Linked DNA regions of Homo sapiens. The protein of the gene in region 1 purifies or fractionates together with the protein of each later gene. This does not show direct contact. Each region holds a gene or a part of one and is shown in the gene's direction. Other genes may lie near its edges.

Region 1 (3,691 bases):
CTTGAGTCCCACACCTGCCACTCCCTGTCTCTTACAGGGTCTTTGAGGGGATTAAATGTGGTTGTGTGTGAGGCAGAAGCATAAGCCTGGCCCAGGTAGTGCCCCTTCAGGTGTGCAAGCCAGGCACGGTGCTTAGAGCTTACATACAACGTCTATGTGTGGTGGGCACCACCGACCTCATTTGACAAGGGAAGGGGCTGTGGCTCAGAGGGACGGCCACAACATCAAGGTCACCTTGGGTGTCAGGCAAACTCCAGATTGAACTCAGCTGCCACACACCAAGAAATTAATTGTAACCTGATGCCTCTCTTCTGGAGAAATTGGGGGGTGGACTTTCATTAACGTTCTGCCACAAATGACCCTCACTCCTGGGGGCCCCTGAGACCCCCACGCCTCCAGCCTCCCCTCCGGCTCTCTCTGTGCACTCACCTACCTGCCTCGCGCCTGCCTGCTGCGCCCAGCTGGGGCCTCCACCTTCCTCTGGCTTGGACTGGCCAGGTGCAGCCTCGGTGCCCAGCTGTTCAGCCCGTACCCTCCGCCCTTCGGAGGACGACCTCACCCTTCCTTTGTTAAGCCCCTTGTCCACCACATCCGCATTCCCCTGGTCTCACGGGGGCCTTTGGCCCAGTTCCTGACTGTGATGGGGAGAGTGTGGGCATTTGGTCTGGCTGTGCAAATCCTGCCCCTGTGTGGGTGGGAGTGTGCATGGCTTCAACCTTCAGGGGATGCATCCACATTGCCCAGTGGAGAGGGGTCCTGGTCCTGTGACCTTGAATGTCTCTAATCATGTCCTTAAGCATAATGCCATTCTGTGTGTGTGTGTGTGTGTGTGTGTGTACATGCACGTGTGCAGTGGGTATACAAGGCCCTGTATGTTCACATCCTCTCCACATGCATGAGCCAGATCCCCATATGTGAAACCCAATCAGTGACTCCACAGATCTGGCTTGGGGGCTGATCTAGAGATGGATAAATATGTCCTGCCCTGGCTGCCTCTGGCTTCAGCTGCATGTCTTTGACCTTGAATGCCCAGCCCCGTGTCTGGGTGCTGCCCCAGACAGCAAGTCCACATCTGAGTGTTGGCCTTCTGGGTTGGTGTCTGCAGCTCTAACTCTACAAAATGTCTTGTGGGTGAATCACGGTTTTAACCTTGACTTTTTTTTGTTTGTTTGGTTTTTTTTGAGACGGAGTCTCGCTCTGCCGCCCAAGCTGGAGTTCAGTGGTGCAACCTCAGCTCACTGCAACCTCCGCCTCCCAGGTTCAAGCAATTCTGTCTCTGCCTCCCGAGTAGCTAGAATTACAGGCACGCACCACCACGCCCAGCTGATTTTTGTATTTTTATTTATTTATTTATTTATTTTTTAGTAGAGACGGGATTTCACGATGTTGGCCAGGCTGGTCTCAAACTCCTGACCTCAGGTGATCCACCCACCTCGGCCTTGGCCTCCCAAAGTGCTGGGATTACAGGCGTGAGCCACCACACCTGGCCAACCTTGACTATTTATTATAGGTAATTCTGTGCAGATGTCTGACTTATGTTGGCCATCTCCAGGATGGACCTGAACTTTCACACGTATGTCCCTGTGACTAAATCCAGGTGTCATTTGCAAAAAACAACTAATATTATTAAGTAGCTACCAGGGCTAGGTATCACTCACCATACATACACACATGCACACACACACATACACATTCCTACCTCATCCTTACAACAATCTTCATTTTACAGATGAGGAAACAGAGGCACAGACAGGTCGAATAACTTACTCAAAGTTTCACAGCTAGTACATTCGAACCCAGGCTTAAGGACCCATCTTTGTCCAGACCCTGTATGCAAGTGTCTGTGACACTGGATGCCAAGACTCACACTAGAGATGTTGAATTTAGGTCTGAACAATATCCAATTCTGTGTGTGTGTTTGTGTGTGCATGTGTGTGTGTGTATGTATTCATGTCTTAACCATCCATATTCATATACACATATGAACATCTGTGCTGTGATTCTTTTTTTTTTTTTTTTTTTTTTTTTGAGATGGAGTTTCACTCTTGTCACCCAGGCTGGAGTGCAATGGAGCAACCTCCGCTCACTGCAATCTCCGCCTCCCGGGTTCAAGCGATTTTCCTGCCTCAGCCTCCAGAGTAGCTGGGATTACAGGCACCCGCCACCATGCCCAGCTAATTTTTTGTATTTTTGTTAGAGACAGGGTTTCCCCATATTGGCCAGGCTGGTCTCGAACTCCTGACCTCAGGTGATCCACCCGCCTCGGCCTCCCAAAGTGCTGGGATTACAGGCATGAGCCACCGTGCCCAGCCTGTGCTGTGATTCTTGAAGCTGCAACCCATGTGCATGCAAGTGAATTTCAGCTTCCAGTCCTGTCCATAGCTGTACCTAAGTGTGGAAGCTGGATGTGCATGTATGCATGTCCATGACCTTGTATAGCCACATCTGGGACTCATACTGCACACTGAATTTGGCTGACATGTCCAGACTCTGGGGCCAAGGCTGGGTCACACATACTGAGTGGCCACATGCGTTTGACGTCTGTGACAATTTGGTGACCGTGAATGACTGGTTTCAAGTGACCACCTGTCTGAACCTGTATCCAGTGCCCCTGTCTCCACCCCCAACCACAGAGGACTTCTTGCCCTCTGGTCTGTTCCCCTTCCTCTCTCTCCCAGAGTCTTATAGCAAATGGGGTGGGGGCTAGAGTTCTGGAGAAAACAGGCAGCGGTTGTAAATAAACAACAGGGCAGGCGGAGCATGGTGGCTCACACCTGTAATCCCAGCACTTTGGGAGGCTGAGGCGGGCAGAGCATTTGAAGTCAGAAGTTTGAGACTACCCTGGCTAACATGGTGAGACCTCGTCTCTACTAAAAATACAAAAATTAGCCAGGTGTGGTGGCGGGCACCTCAGCTACTCGGGAGGCTGAGGCAGGAGGATCACTTGAACCCAGGAGGCGGAAGTTGCAGTGAGCTGAGATCATGCCACTGCACTCCAGCCTGGGCAAAAGAGTGAGACTCCGTCTCAAAAACAACAACAACAACAAACAAAAACAGGGCAGGGTGTCTTGAGAAGTTAGGGGAAAGGCATAGGCATATAGTAGTTAGGGCAGGGTGCAAGGAAGGTGTAGGAGGCAATGTAAACGTCCCTGTCCTCAGGCATCCTCTACCCCTTCTCTTAGCAGCCCAGGATGGTGACAAGTTGCTGGAAGGTGACGAGTGTGCACCCCACTCCCAGCCATGGCAAGTGGCTCTCTACGAGCGTGGACGCTTTAACTGTGGCGCTTCCCTCATCTCCCCACACTGGGTGCTGTCTGCGGCCCACTGCCAAAGCCGGTATGAAGGCAGGGGCTCAGGGTCCTGAGGGAGCCTGGTTCGGGGGGAAGAGCTCCTAGATTTGGGGGAAGACGGAGGCAGACGCCAGAACTCCTGGGTTCTGAAAGACGAGGAGGCCGGATGTCAAGCCCCTGGGTTAGGAAGGAGTGTGTGTTTCAAAGCCTTCGATCTCTGAAGGAGGAAGGAGAAGACTAGTTCCAGCTTTTGAGCCTCAGTTCTAGGGATGTGAGAATCCTGGATTCGGGGACAGACCAGGAGGGGGCTGGGAGTAGTTGGAGGGGATCGAGTTCTAGGAGTGTGCCTGACTTCAGACTCGTTGGTCCTTGAGGAGCAGGGGCTGGAACCATTGGCTTCA
Region 2 (4,900 bases), on another chromosome or scaffold:
CCGGGTGTCACAGTGCCAGGGACAGAGGGACGGTTCTTTCAGACCCTACTCTCTCAAGGGAAGGGGCTGATTCCTCCACCAGCGTCCCAAGCCGGCCCCCTTTCCGCACAGAGTCCTTAATTGTCCCTGTCGCCACCTTGCCCCATCCTCAGATGGCTGTGGCTGTGGGGGTGAAGCTCCCCACGCACCGCCATTGTGCAGGCCTGCCCCTAGGACATCCTCTGTGGACTGGAGCCCGGGAGGACTTCACTGAGCCCCCGCCAAGAGAAACCGGGCAGACAGGTGGTCCCGGATGCTCCCTCGTCGGGAAGCGCAGTTGGGTTCCAGGGAGCCCGTGGGTGCTGGAGGCCCCAGCTCAGGGCTCAGTGAGCCGGGCCAGCCTGGCCTCTGAGAGGGCTCCCGGAGGAGGCGACCAGGACCCTGGCCTAGAGTCTCAGCAAGTCCATCTCCTTCAAATGCCCCCACCTCGGCTCCACGCCCCTCCTCCAGAGCACACTCGCGTGAGGCGCCAGCTGGAAGATCCTCGCGGGTCCCAGCACCGCAGTGGGTGCCTGGGCCTGACAGAACCTCCCTGAACCCCATCTTTCTTCTCCATCGACACCGGGGCAGAGACGGTGTGGGGGCTGCAGGGCGGGGACTGGTCGGCCTGGGCTCGACAGCTTGGCGAGGGCCTGGTGCGGGCTGGGCAGGCTGGACTGAGGGGCAAAGAGGTCTGGGCGGGGCGGGGCCGCTCTGGGCGCCCGGCCCCCACCAGTTCCTTCCCCCGGCCCCCGCCTCCGCCCTCCCACGCACCTGCGCTGGCCTCCCCCCAAGCCCTGGGGGCAGCGGGCGGGTGGCGCTGGGAGATCAGAGGACTCGGAGGAGTCGGGCCCAGGGGGAGGGGGCGGGGAATTTCCCCCCACGCCTGCCTGGGCCTGCTCCCCTCCCCCTCCCCCGCCAGGTGGGGGGCACGGCTGGGGGAATTCCACTGCAGTGTGAAGGCTCGGGAGAGTCTGGGCTGGGGGTCCCAGGGAAGGGCGGGGCAGGGGGAGGAGGAGGGGACAGACTGGGACCTGGGGCGCAGCTGCCTTTCTCCCCAGACACCAGCTGCCCCTGCCTGTCCCGGACTGAGCGTCCACGACTCCCGCCTGTCTCGTGGGCGCGGGGGCAGGGAGTGGAGCTTCCTCCGTCAGGCCAGCGGCATCTGGACCAGGGGCGGGAGGGGCGTGCGGATCCGAAGAAAGTGTGCGCGTGAGCGCCTGGCAATGAATGGGAGAGAGTGCGAGCGCGTGCGTGCACTGGGAGGAGGGCGCTTGTAACTCGGACATTCCGGGTGTCCTGGGGCGCGTGCGACCACGTGAGGGGGTTCTGTATCTCCCATTTTAAGGGCCTTCCGTCCGCTTGCCCCGCCTGTCCCCCTCCACACCTTCCCACTTGAACCGGCACCGACCTGAGGGAGAGGGGGCCGGGAAGCGCTGGACGCCCGGGGTCGGGGGAACGGGCGTGGGAGGCGTCTGGACCTGCTGCCTCCGCTCCAGTGCTGGGCGGGGCTTCCCGGCCTCCCATGGGGGGAGGGAGAGACCCAGGGGGAGGGACCCACGGAGGGATGCGAGGCGGGCAGGAGTCAGCCCGTTGGAGACCTGGGCGAGGGAGACGCCGAGAGCTAGGCTCAGTGGGAGGGGGCGGGCGTAGAGGCTGAGGCACCGCCCAGAGCTCGCTGAGACAGAGACTGAGAACGCCCCCGGCCAGATTCCCCCCGGAGAGACCCGGGTAGGGACAGGGACAGAGAGACGCCTCTAGGGGCAGAGGCCCTGGGAGGCAAAGACCCCCAGGAGAGATTTACCCACCCCAGACGGAAAGCGCGGCTCAGAGTCGGACGAGGGGAGACTGTCAGAGGACAACGCCCCCTAGGTCTCCTGGGAGACCCCGAAGCGACCCCGGGGGCAGCCCGGGCCGTGTCCGGGCGAGGGTGACCTATCCTTGGTTGAGAGCGATGGGGACACAAGCCCTGCAGGGCTTCCTCTTTCTCCTCTTCCTCCCGCTGCTGCAGCCGCGTGGGGCCTCGGCTGGGAGCCTGCACAGTCCAGGTAAGTCCCCGCACGGCTGTCGGGCCGTGTTCACCACCCCTTCCTCGGCCTCCGCCCCCAGGGCCAGGCCCCCAAGGCTAGGGAGGGGGACAGAGCAGGTGGCCGGAGCAGCTGAGCAGCCCGAGGGCTCCTGCAGGGGCGGGTGCGGGGTCGCTGGCTGGGGACCCAGGCGGGAGGTGGCGTAGGGGCGCGAGGATGCCCGGCGTGGGTCCGGACCTCCCCAGGCCCTGCCTTTGCCGTGCAGGCCTGTCCGAATGCTTCCAGGTGAATGGGGCTGACTACCGCGGCCACCAGAACCGCACTGGCCCGCGCGGGGCGGGCCGCCCGTGCCTCTTCTGGGACCAGACGCAGCAACACAGCTACAGCAGCGCCAGCGACCCCCACGGCCGCTGGGGGCTGGGCGCGCACAACTTCTGCCGGTGAGGGGCGGGGCCTGCGCTGGGGGCGAGGCTGGGCTCACCATTGCAGGGATGGCCCGAAGCGGGGCCTCCGTGCGGGCGGGGTGGAGGTCTGCCGTGGACTGGCAGCCCAGCCTCCTGGAGAACCTGGGGGCGGGGCCAGAATGAGGGGCGGGGCGGGGCGGGGCGGGGCGCGCGGAACCCTGGCGCAAAAGGGATCCTCCTCAGGTGAACAATTTCTGCAGAGCTCCAGTTCAGGGCCAGGAGAGAAACGGACCTGGGCACTCAAAGGACCCGTATGGGCGGGGCCTGGTCAGAGCGGGGGCCGAATGGGCGGGGCCTTGTCAGAGTGGGGCTCTTGTCATACAACTTATTTTGGGGTTCAGAGCCACAGCTACGGTCTGAGGCAGGATGGACCCAGCGGGAGGAGAGCCGCAAAGCTCAGGAGCTCACTTCTGCTTTTAAGTGGGGTTGGAGGCCAGGCGCGGTGGCTCAGCCTGTAATCCCAGCACTTTGGGAGGCCAAGGCAGGCGGATCATCTGAGGTCAGGAGTTCGAGACCAGCCTGGCTACCATGGTGAAACCCCATTTCTACTAAAAATACAAAAAATTAGCGGGGCATGGTGGCGGGCGCCTGTAATCCCAGCTACTCAGGAGGCTGAGGCAGGAGAATCGCTTGAACCCGGGAGGCGGAGCTTGCAGTGAGCAGAGATCGCGCCAATGCACTCTAGCCTGGGTGACAGAGCGAGACTCGTCTCAAAAAAAAAAAAAAAAAGTGGGGTTTGAGGGACGGAAGTGGCTGAGGCCCATGCCGGGTGGGGGTGAAGAATACAGATGGCCTCAAAGTCCTCATATATGGAGTCAAGTCTAGCAACAGCTGAAGCCTAAAAACAGCTCTCAAGTCCCCTTTAATGACTTCCCGCTGTCCACTCGGAAGTCGACGTCCAGTTCCTTCATCAGGCAGAGTTCTGCGTAGACAAAACTGGAATTTGTGGGTGTACAGCAGGCAGCACAGCCGCTCACAGGCACAGAGCCTTGAAGGCCACTTTGAGCATAGGCTGCGGGGCCGGGCCTGGGTTTGCTATTCTTGGGGTGGTGGGAGCCCCACCACCTCCCTCCCACCCGCAGTAACCCAGACGGTGACGTGCAGCCGTGGTGCTACGTGGCTGAGACAGAGGAGGGCATCTACTGGCGCTACTGCGACATCCCCTCCTGTCACAGTGAGTAGCGCGGCTGGACAGAGGTGGGAACGCTGCTGCATCTGGGAGGAGGGTTGTTTTCGGAGTCACGGAAGTCTGACTCTGCCCCCTCAGTGCCAGGCTACCTGGGATGCTTTGTGGACTCAGGGGCACCCCCAGCCCTCAGCGGCCCCAGCGGCACCTCCACGAAGCTCACGGTCCAGGTGTGCCTACGCTTCTGCCGCATGAAGGGGTACCAGGTACTGCTCACGGGCCCAGACCAGTGACCCCTGACCTGGACCTAAAGACCACACTCAACTCCCAACACTCGGTTGCCAAACCCAGACACCGGTTTCTGAACCTCCAGCCCGATTCCCACCCCGACCCCAGGCCCCCACCACTTCACCCCTACCCCAGCCCCTGCCCTGGGGTCACCCAGTCTGTGCTCCCAGCTGGCGGGCGTGGAGGCCGGTTACGCCTGCTTCTGTGGCTCTGAAAGCGACCTGGCCCGGGGACGCCTGGCCCCCGCCACCGACTGTGACCAGATCTGTTTCGGCCACCCTGGACAGCTGTGTGGCGGCGATGGGCGGCTGGGCGTCTATGAAGGTGAGGAGTGGGCGGGGACCAGGGGCCTGGGCGGGCCTCGAGGTGGGGCCTGGCCGGGCAGGGGAGCCGCCGTGTCCTGGTCCTCAGGATGCTGACTGCCGGCCCCGCCCGCAGTGTCGGTGGGCTCCTGCCAGGGGAACTGGACAGCGCCTCAGGGCGTCATCTACTCCCCGGACTTCCCGGACGAGTACGGGCCGGACCGGAACTGCAGCTGGGCCCTGGGCCCGCCAGGCGCCGCGCTGGAGCTCACCTTCCGCCTCTTCGAGCTGGCCGACCCGCGCGACCGGCTGGAGCTGCGCGACGCGGCTTCGGGCAGCCTGCTCCGCGCCTTCGATGGCGCCCGCCCACCGCCGTCCGGGCCGCTGCGCCTGGGCACTGCCGCGCTGCTGCTCACCTTCCGAAGCGACGCGCGCGGCCACGCGCAAGGCTTCGCGCTCACCTACCGCGGTGAGCCTCAGCTCGGCGCGCCCTGCCCGCTGTTCCCACCCCGCTCTCCCCACCCCGCCTCACGCCCCTCTCCGCAGGGCTGCAGGACGCCGCTGAGGACCCAGAGGCCCCCGAGGGCTCGGCCCAGACCCCCGCGGCGCCCCTCGACGGGGCCAACGTGAGCTGCAGCCCCAGGCCTGGGGCTCCGCCGGCCGCGATTGGGGGTG

The links.
Region 2: the proteins of KLK15 (region 1) and KREMEN2 purify together in Homo sapiens (affinity purification with mass spectrometry; one large-scale study listed by BioGRID and IntAct). This does not show direct contact.

Annotation. Positions count from the first base shown.
Region 1 is NC_000019.10:50,827,307-50,830,997, reverse strand, and holds part of KLK15 (kallikrein-15 isoform 4 preproprotein), read left to right. Parts: intron 1-433; exon of another isoform or gene 434-468; intron 469-3,182; coding exon 3,183-3,336; intron 3,337-3,691. UniProt on the Homo sapiens protein: Protease whose physiological substrate is not yet known.
Region 2 is NC_000016.10:2,962,549-2,967,448, forward strand, and holds the start of KREMEN2 (kremen protein 2 isoform d precursor), read left to right. Parts: upstream 1-1,726; 5' UTR 1,727-1,972; coding exon 1,973-2,066; intron 2,067-2,310; coding exon 2,311-2,485; intron 2,486-3,591; coding exon 3,592-3,683; intron 3,684-3,776; coding exon 3,777-3,901; intron 3,902-4,093; coding exon 4,094-4,247; intron 4,248-4,361; coding exon 4,362-4,694; intron 4,695-4,771; coding exon 4,772-4,897; intron 4,898-4,900. UniProt on the Homo sapiens protein: Receptor for Dickkopf proteins. Cooperates with DKK1/2 to inhibit Wnt/beta-catenin signaling by promoting the endocytosis of Wnt receptors LRP5 and LRP6.